Regions from separate parts of the Homo sapiens genome. Here region 2 is linked to region 1. The links come from fine-mapping of genetic effects on gene expression. A gene starts in region 1. The other region holds a variant in brackets. All regions are shown on one strand. Distances are from middle to middle.

Region 1 (4,395 bases):
CTCATTTCTAGTGTCAATCAAGGAAGAGAAGCAGTGCCCCCATCCAGACTGAGAATGAGGAAAGTGAGTTCAGAAGGTAGGAGAAGGAACTTGCCTCACTCTGAGCCTCAATCTCTGGCATGTCAGCCAGGCGCGGTGGCTCACACCTATAATCCCAGCACTTTGGGAGGCCGAGGCAGGTGGATCACTTGAGGTCAGGAGTTTGAGACCAGCCTGCCCAACATAGTGAAACCCCATCTCTACAAAAATGCAAAAATTAGCTAGGCATGGTGGCGCGTGCCTGTGGTCCCAGCTACTTGGGAGGCTGAGGCACGAGAATTGCTTGAATCTGGGAGGCAGAGGTTGCAGTGAGCCAAAATTGCGCCACTGCACCCCAGCCTGGGAGAGAGAGCAAAACTCCCCATCAAAAAAAGAAAGAAAGAAAGAGAGAGAGAGAAAGAGAAGGAAGGAAAGAAGGAAGGAAGGAAGGAAGGAAGGAAGGAAGGAAGGAAGGAAGGAAGGAAGGAAGGAAGGAAAGAAAGAAAGAAAGAGAGAAAGAGAAAGAAAGAAAGAAAGAGAAAGAAAGAAAGAGAAAGAAAGAAGAAAAAAAGAAAGAAAGAAAGGGAAAGGGAAAGGAAAGGAAAAAGAGAGGGAAAGAAAGAAAAGTCTCTGGCATCTCTACCTGGATTCCCCAAGCTGGCTGCAGATCAAAACACTAACACTTGGACAGGTTTATAAATGTAAACTCCTAGTTCCAATCTGACAAATTGGAATCTCCAGGAACTGGAGGTCCAGGAATTTGCTCCTCCCAGTTGATTCCAATTCCCTGCCCTGTGTCTAATTAGAAACCTCTGGTCTAGATCCCCAATACAGTAGGAAACTAAGAGATCTTCCTGAGAGCAGGGGCTAAGGTGGTTCCCACCCTGGAGTAACAGGAAGACGAACCATGATCTGAACCTGGGAAGGTGTCACGGCTCCTGAGCCACCCATAGGCATGGCCGGGAGAGCCCTGCCTTTGGGGACACCAACCGCTTAGACACTCGGTGAGGTCTGTCATGTGGCGGTACTCATCTTCATGCTCACTCTCATTTCCTGCCTTACAAATGGAAATCTTTACACTACACACAACAACACGGACGCTGATTGAGCTTTCAATGGATTGCCTACTTCTATGTACTATCCAGAGGTTTTGGATTTCTGCCATTGCCTTTCTGTCATTGCTGAGCTTTTAGCAGAACCTGGTCCAAACTTTGGGCCTCAGAATGAGGAGAAGGTGTCTGTGCCATGCTTGAGCCCTGACTTGGAAGTTGCCCCCACTTCTGAAGTCAGCTTGAAAGGCTGGAGTGAAGGAGAAATTCCGGTGGGAAAGCTGAATGGAAGCCATGGATCCCAGGACATCATCCCCCTGCCCAAGTTTGAAGTCTCCCTCCACAGCCCCCTGGGAATTAGGCCTGATTCTCTGAAAGGAGGGAGGATGTTTTCTTTCTCCCCCACCCTCCCGACCTCCACATACCTCGAGGGCATGTCCAAAAAGCCAGTGGGTGGGAGGCCCTGGGAATTTGTCCATAGCCTTAGCCAACGTCTGCCTCCGCAGCAGCAGGTGGATGAGCTTGAGAAAGCCTAAGACCAAGATCAGCCCAGAAGCCCACAGGCCCAAGGAGGAGAAGCTCAGGGAGAGGAAGCTGGGCACCATGGTTGCAGTTCCAGCCACCTAGCCTTCATCTGACCTGCCTTCAGCTGCTCCTGGGTTCCTTTATACTCTGGACCCATGCATCTTGTCAGCGTCCAGCCCTAGCCACTCCCTGCAGCCAGCAGCAGCCAAGGCTGGGCTGAGTGCCATAAGGCGGAGACAGCAACCTCCAAAACTGCAAACAACAGAGGAGAGAGCCTAGTGGCCTTCTCCCAAAATTCAGCTAAAGAGAAACCTAATAGTGGACTCCAAAAAAAACAGGCAATGGGTATCCCACCTTGATTCCTTAGAACAAACAGATGGCAATTCTTGGTGTAATCATCAGCATAATAACCACTGTCTTCTCATACAAGCACTGTGAATGTTTCAGGCACTTTTTACATACTATCTCATTTAACCCAAACAGCAAGGAGGTCAGAGGCACTCACATTTTATACCCATTTCCCAGATAATGAAGCTGAGGCTCAGCTTGCCTATGCTTTCTCTCAAGAAAGCTTCCAGTGTCCCCTTCAATGTGAACCCTTAAGAGAGCTGGCATTTATGCTAGGCTCGCAATGCTTTGAGTTCTTTTTTGTGAGGCACCTTCAGAGACAAGGTTCTAGCCCCAAAAGGGAAATACCAGGTCAGAAAGGGGCCAACTCCACCCCTAAAACAATAGTGCCATTTTGACACTTAGGAACATAGAACTTTCAGGGTGATGAGAGGTCATCAAATTCAATCCCTCCTGGCTGGATGGAGCCACTTAAGCTCAAGAGAGGTAGGGAAATATCCAAAGTTGCACAGCAAGAAATTGGCAGCTCCCAGTGCCACAGCCCAGGCTTCTGTGGAAGAACAAGTTTGGCTCAGACCACTGCCTTGCCTGGGGAGGGTATGTTATTTGCAGAGGCAGGCAGATTAAAGAAATCAAACAAGATATGATGTGGCATGCAGAGACTTGAAACAACAAGAAATGCATCAATACCCCAGGACTAAAGGAAGAAGGGAAGAAAATCATGATCCTGTAGCTTGGTGGGGGTTGTATTTATGGGGAACACAGCTAGTGCGAGAGAAGTGATGCTGGAACAGTGGAAGAACAGAGCAAAAATGTCCTAAACTCTTTCATCTGCCATCTCCCATCTCCTACTAGTGTCTCCAATCAGCCAAGCCAATCAGAAGTGAAATGGCAAGGAGCCTGGGGAGTCAGTCTGCAGAAGTCAGCCTCCCAGCAAGATAAGAGCAAGGACAGTCTGGCAGGGAGGTGGCAGGAAAAAAACCAGCAATCAGGTGGACTTGGATCTCAAATCTCAGAACTCAGATCACAGGTTCTAATTCAGAGAATGATAAGCCATCAACATGGCTGCCTTATCCCCTCTGGCACAAGAGACCAAGCCTCCTCCTCTGCTGGGGAGACATAATGTCCAATCTTACCCATAGGCAGAGAAAGCAAGAAGAGAGTACAATGAAAGAACTCCAAAAGTGTCTTCTCCATTGGTCTGTCACACTTCCTGAAATTTCACATTTGTGCTTCATTTTATAGGATCGAGACATTGAGTGCACCATTTAAAAAGCAAGTCATGTTGTATCTTTGTTCTTATTGGTTTCAAACAACATCTTTATTTCTGCCTTCATTTCATTATGTACCCAGTAGTCATTCAGGAGCAGGTTGTTCAGTTTCCATGTAGTTGAGCGGTTTTGAGTGAGTTCATTAATCCTGAGTTCTAGTTTGATTGCACTGTGGTCTGAGAGACAGTTTGTTATAATTTCTGTTCTTTTACATTTGCTGAGGAGTGCTTTACTTCCAACTATGTGGTCAATTTTGGCATAAGTGCGATGTGGTGCTGAGAAGAATGTATATTCTGTTGATTTGGGGTGAAGAGTTCTGTAGATGTCTATTAGGTCCGCTTGGTGCAGAGCTGAGTTCAATTCCTGGATATCCTTGTTTAACTTTCTGTCTTGTTGATCTGTCTAATGTTGACAGTGGGGTGTTAAAGTCTCCCATTATTATTGTGTGGAAGTCTAAGTCTCTTTGTAGGTCTCTAAGGACTTGTTTTATGAATGTGGGTGCTCCTGTATTGGGTGCATATATATTTAGGATACTTAGCTCTTCTTAATGAATTGATCCCTTTACCATTATGTAATGGCCTTCTTTGTCTCTTCTGATCTTTGTTGGTTTAAAGTCTGTTTTATCAGAGACTAGGATTGCAACCCCTGCCTTTTTTTGTTTTCCATTTGCTTGGTAGATCTTCCCCCATCCCTTTATTTTGAGCCTATGTGTGTCTCTGCACATGAGATGGGTCTCCTGAATATAGCACACTGATGGGTCTTGACTCTGGGATGCATTTAAAGCAATGTGTGGAGGAAATTTATAGCACTAAATGCCCACAAGAGAAAGGAGGAAATATCTAAAATTGACACCCTAATATCACAATTAAAAGAACTAGAGAAGCAAGATCAAACACATTCAAAAGCTAGCAGAAGGCAAGAAATAACTAAGATCAGAGCAGAACTGAAGGAGACAGAGACACAGAAAACCCTTCAAAAAAATCAATGAATCGAGGAGCTGGTTTTTTGAAAGGATCAACAAAATTGATAGACCGCTAGCAAGACTAATGAAGAAAAGAGAGAAGAATCAAATAGACGCAATAAAAAATGAAGGGGGGTATCACCACCAATCCCACAGAAATACAAACTACCATGAGAGAATACTATAAACACCTCTATGCAAATAAACTAGAAAATCTAGAAGA
Region 2 (4,395 bases), 60 kb before region 1:
AATCTCAGGATCAAATCCATGAATCTTCAATCTTCATTCTCTCCTGAACCAACATCTCTATATTATATTACTAGCTTTCTGATGTGTTCAAGTACACTATGTGTGTTTTTGTGTGTGTGTGGTCCAAATTTTCTGGTTGTCATAGCAGGAGATATGAACTGAATTACTTAGTCCACCATCACTAGAAACAAAACTTGTTACCTTTTTGTTCAATTTGGATAGTTGTGTCTTTTTTCTCTAACATTCTCACCCAAAAATGACCAATTTTATTCATCTTTTCAATGAACCAATATCTAGCATTGCTGACCTTGTTGACTTTTTGCTTTTGCCTATCTCATTGATTCCTACTCTTCCCTAAACTATTTTTTCCTCTACTTCTTTGCATTTATTTTGCCTTTCCTATACCTGTTTCCAGGTGCATTCCTTTGCAGGCCCAGCCCAGAGCTGAAGGTGGCTTCCCACAGTCCCCACATGTGTTGAGCCCTTGATTCTGACTCATGTCTCCTTGCCCACTGCTCCACTTCTGGTTCGCAACAGAAGCATCAGCCATTATCTGCCCACTTCTGTGATCTCCAATCCTCCAATCCTCTTTATGGTCTCCTAACAAATGAGTTATCTCATTGATGCTTTTAAGAATATTTTTTAAAGTTCCCTGAGTTTTTTCAACTCTCTTAGTGAAGAAGGTAGTCTGTATTCCTACTACAGTACTATCAGAAATACTTATATTTTCATAAAAGAAGCACTCTAGATATAAATACAGCCCACATGTCTATCCAAATTTTCACAGATGTGTGATATTGGTCACAGGAGCCCTGGAATAGGTATGTCTCAGGATAAGAGCCCTATATCTTCGGCGAAAAAAAAGCTTACAGTTACATGTGAAAAGTGGTTCATGTTAAAATTTAGCTTTTCCTAAGACATACTTGATACATCTGAAGTCCTCCTTTGGGTAAAGAACAAAATCATTCTCAGTTACAAAAATGGGGAAAAGCTGGGCTTTCAGTGCAATGCCAAAGTGACTACTCCTCCTTTTCCTTTCCTCCTGTGCTTGTACCCAGGGAACACCTGAGCCAGATGCCTTACGCCACAATGTGCATCAAGGAATGCCTCCGCCTCTACGCACCGGTAGTAAACATATCCCGGTTACTCGACAAACCCATTACCTTTCCAGATGGACGCTCCTTACCTGCAGGTCTTAAAACAACTTTTTTTTTTTTTAACAATGCAGCTATGTTTGGATTGAAATGTCTTAACACACTCATGTCTTTAACAGTTATTTATCCTTAGACTCTGTGGAACCTAGGGCCATTCTTATTTCCCAGAGAGGGAGAAAGAGGAGAGAGCTCTCAGGACTATCTAAACAGGCACAGGATTATGCAGGTGCAAAGGTACAGAATCCTGCCATATGGACTGAGGAGTGGGTGAGGAGGCCTTCATGAAGCATCATGGCTTTAATGCTGAACCTTAAAGGACTAGATTTATATCAGCAAAGATGAGAGAGGCGCATTGTTGGCAGAGAGAAGAGCAGACACAAAGCAGCAGGCAGCCTGCCTTCTCCCTTCCCTCAGGCACACCAGCAGGGCATGTCACTGGAGCAATTGCTGTAATCCACCAGACTCCAGGATTCACAGAGGGAAGTTGTGGGACTATACCTGGAGCCATGATGTAGCCAGATCATAGTTTTCTGAAGGCCAACCTTTGTGTTCAGCCTTTCTCAATCAAGCAGCAGATTTAAGACATCTAAGCTGGGTAGCACGATTATAGTTATTTTTTAGAAAGATTAATACATTGGTGGGATGCAAGATGGATTGAAAGATGACATTAGAGATATAAAGGAATGAGCCAGAATTTATCTTTGACCTATGTTGAGGTGTGTTTCTACACCTTCCTCCAATTTAACCATCTTTCAAATACTGGATTTGATTGGGCATTTGTAGTAGTCTAATTAAATGTAGCAATATTTAATTGCTACTGTGCTACCATAGTTGCCCAATAGCAATTAAATATTTGTTTCCTACAAAATCAACTTTACTATTGTAACAACAAAAGGAAAAAATTATTTAGCACTTACTAGGAGCTGAGAATTGTTCCATATGTTTTGCATGTGTTAACTCATTTTATCCACCCATCCTCCTGCCCCCCAGTTCTGCTGTGGAAATACTAGTGTTATGCACATTTTAGCAAACAGGGACAAAAAGGTAAAACTTCATCTCTGGTAAATGGTAGAACTAGGACTTGAACCCAAGAAATGGGACTCTAGAGTGTGCTCTTAACTACTACACTACAGCAACAACTTAAGCTTTCTCTGGGATCTCTCCAGAGAAAGATCTTTGCTATCATGGGGATCTTTGCAATCATCTAGTATCTAAAGAAGTTTCCTCTTTTTAATTCAGTGTTATTTTTCACAT[A/G]GTATTTATTGTAATATTTATTACCTACATAATATTGCATCTATGCACATAATGTTCCACGCACCTAGTTGTTCAAACAAGACAGCTCAGAGTCAACTTTTACTACCTTTTCCCTTAACCTTGCATTTCAATAATACTTAAATCCTGTCAATAATCTCTGGTTTTTTTCAATATCAATAAAATGATGATTTATTGCTGCCTTCCAACACAAGAAAATTATTTTCTCTGCTTCCATTCTAGATCACCTAAGCCCTGTAATCCAGAGTCTTAAAATCCCCCGACCCATACAAAAGCTACATGTTGAAAATGTGAGAATCAGCATGCCTTCTAATTTTTCCCATTCAGGTCCTTTCTGTTTCATGTTCCTTTCACTTTCCTGATCTTGTGGCTTTTGCGGCTGCTGCGGGTAACTTTCTGGGCTTCAGACAATTCTGTTGAGATCTGCATGGATGTTGGTGGAAGAGCTGGCTCCACCCGGCTGACTCAGTTTTAGGCGACTTATACGTCATCTCTGGTCTCCTGCAGTCTCTGCCCTTTCCTCCAAGTGCCTTCAAGGGCTGCACCTTAATCTCCCTCAAGCTACAATGAAGGGACAGGAAGTGCACACGCAGAGTTGCCTTCACCTCACTTTACATTCCTTTCCGCCACACCTTCTTGCCACACACAGAGCTTTCAGGCCTTCACTGGACCTCACGTGCTCATCTGTCTCATTTCCTGTTACCCTGCTTTCCTTCCTGCCCCTCTCATACACACAGGCACTCCACAACTTCACTTTCTTCACCCCAGGCTTGGATGCCTGGATTCATCACTCCAACTTCCCCTTTGGCAATGCCATCAACTTCCTTGAATATTTTCCCTTTCTCTACTGTCACTCATCAGTAATTCAACCAGCATTAAATTCCTCTATACGCTTTCTCTGCCCTGCTAATGGGCCCTTGAATACAGCTATAGCACAACAAAGCATGTGCAAATGGATGCCTCATATCCGCCAGACCCACCTCTTCCCCTGTATTACCCAAAAATCCTGTTTATTTCTAAAAAGAAACATGTTTATGATGCCTGCTTTCTCTCCCACACCTCACAATATCACTTACACATTTTCATCACTCTCTACCTGTGCCTGTGCCATGGCCCCATTCACTCTTGGCAAAAGACCTACTACATTATGTGTGCCCTTCTCTTCATTTGTTGGCCCAACAATTGCCTAGTAAACATCTGCTCTAGGCACTTTGCTTTGTTCTGAGCGTACTATGATGTGCAAAATGTCCAAAAGAAAGCATGTCATCTACCTCCTTCCCCTAAACCTATTCCTCCTCCTGGATTGCTACATTAATGAATGGCACCACTGTCTGTGAGTAATTTTAAGTGAGAAAGATAGAAGTCATCCTCACACCTCCACCATCTTCCTTACCCAGACAGTATCCAAGTCCTAGAATATCAGCTATTTCCTTCTCAACAACCTTGCTTCCATGGTCTCAGCTATTGCCTTTGTCAATCTTCATCTGCCAGAGTCCCCTAGTTTTTATATTTCCATACTTAGCTATCTACAAACCAATCTACTTATAAAAGATAAATCATAAGTCTAGGTAAATTCTAAGTTCCAACTCAAGAAAGCCACTTGGGTGATTCTGTTGCCACTTGTCCCTCCTAAGATCCTACTTATACACATACACTGAAATGCAAAAAGAAATAATCCCATAAAAGTGAAAAGAATGGAAGGAAAGTATTTAACAAACAAAAAGAGAGAGAGAGATTTTAATGAATTTATGAAATTAAAAAAGAAGGTAGGATTGGGCTGCCAAATTAAACAAGAAGAGAAATTCCCAGTTTTAAAAGGCAATGAGGGGGTGGCTGCAGAAAGACTTGCAGAGAGTAGAGGGTGGCTCTACTTTTTAATCCCATAGAAAAGGTTTAGAAATTGTGGTCTTAATAAGCTCAGTAAGGCTGAGCTACTTCAGGAAAAGTGTATATTAATCACCTAAAAGAA

Alleles and levels. Alleles are on the strand shown, and positions count from the first base shown. SD is a standard deviation of normalised expression in the study named.
For the expression in esophagus mucosa of the gene that starts at base 1,708 in region 1, allele A in region 2 goes with a higher level than allele G (moderate effect, 0.63 SD a copy in GTEx).

What was found. PIP is the estimated chance that this variant, and not a neighbour inherited with it, causes the effect.
Region 2: its variant is the best candidate, but not a certain one, in a credible set for the expression of CYP4B1 in esophagus mucosa (GTEx, PIP 0.66).

The regions. Positions count from the first base shown.
Region 1 is chr1:46,796,359-46,800,753 of GRCh38, reverse strand. It overlaps CYP4B1 (cytochrome P450 family 4 subfamily B member 1), which reads right to left and starts at 1,708. Exons shown (of 12, transcript NM_001099772.2): 1 at 1,493-1,708. The coding sequence starts at 1,672.
Region 2 is chr1:46,856,451-46,860,845 of GRCh38, reverse strand. It overlaps the pseudogene CYP4Z2P. Among named protein-coding and RNA genes, the nearest start is that of CYP4B1, 60 kb to the right of the region's middle. The variant A/G (reference allele first, on the strand shown) is at 2,409.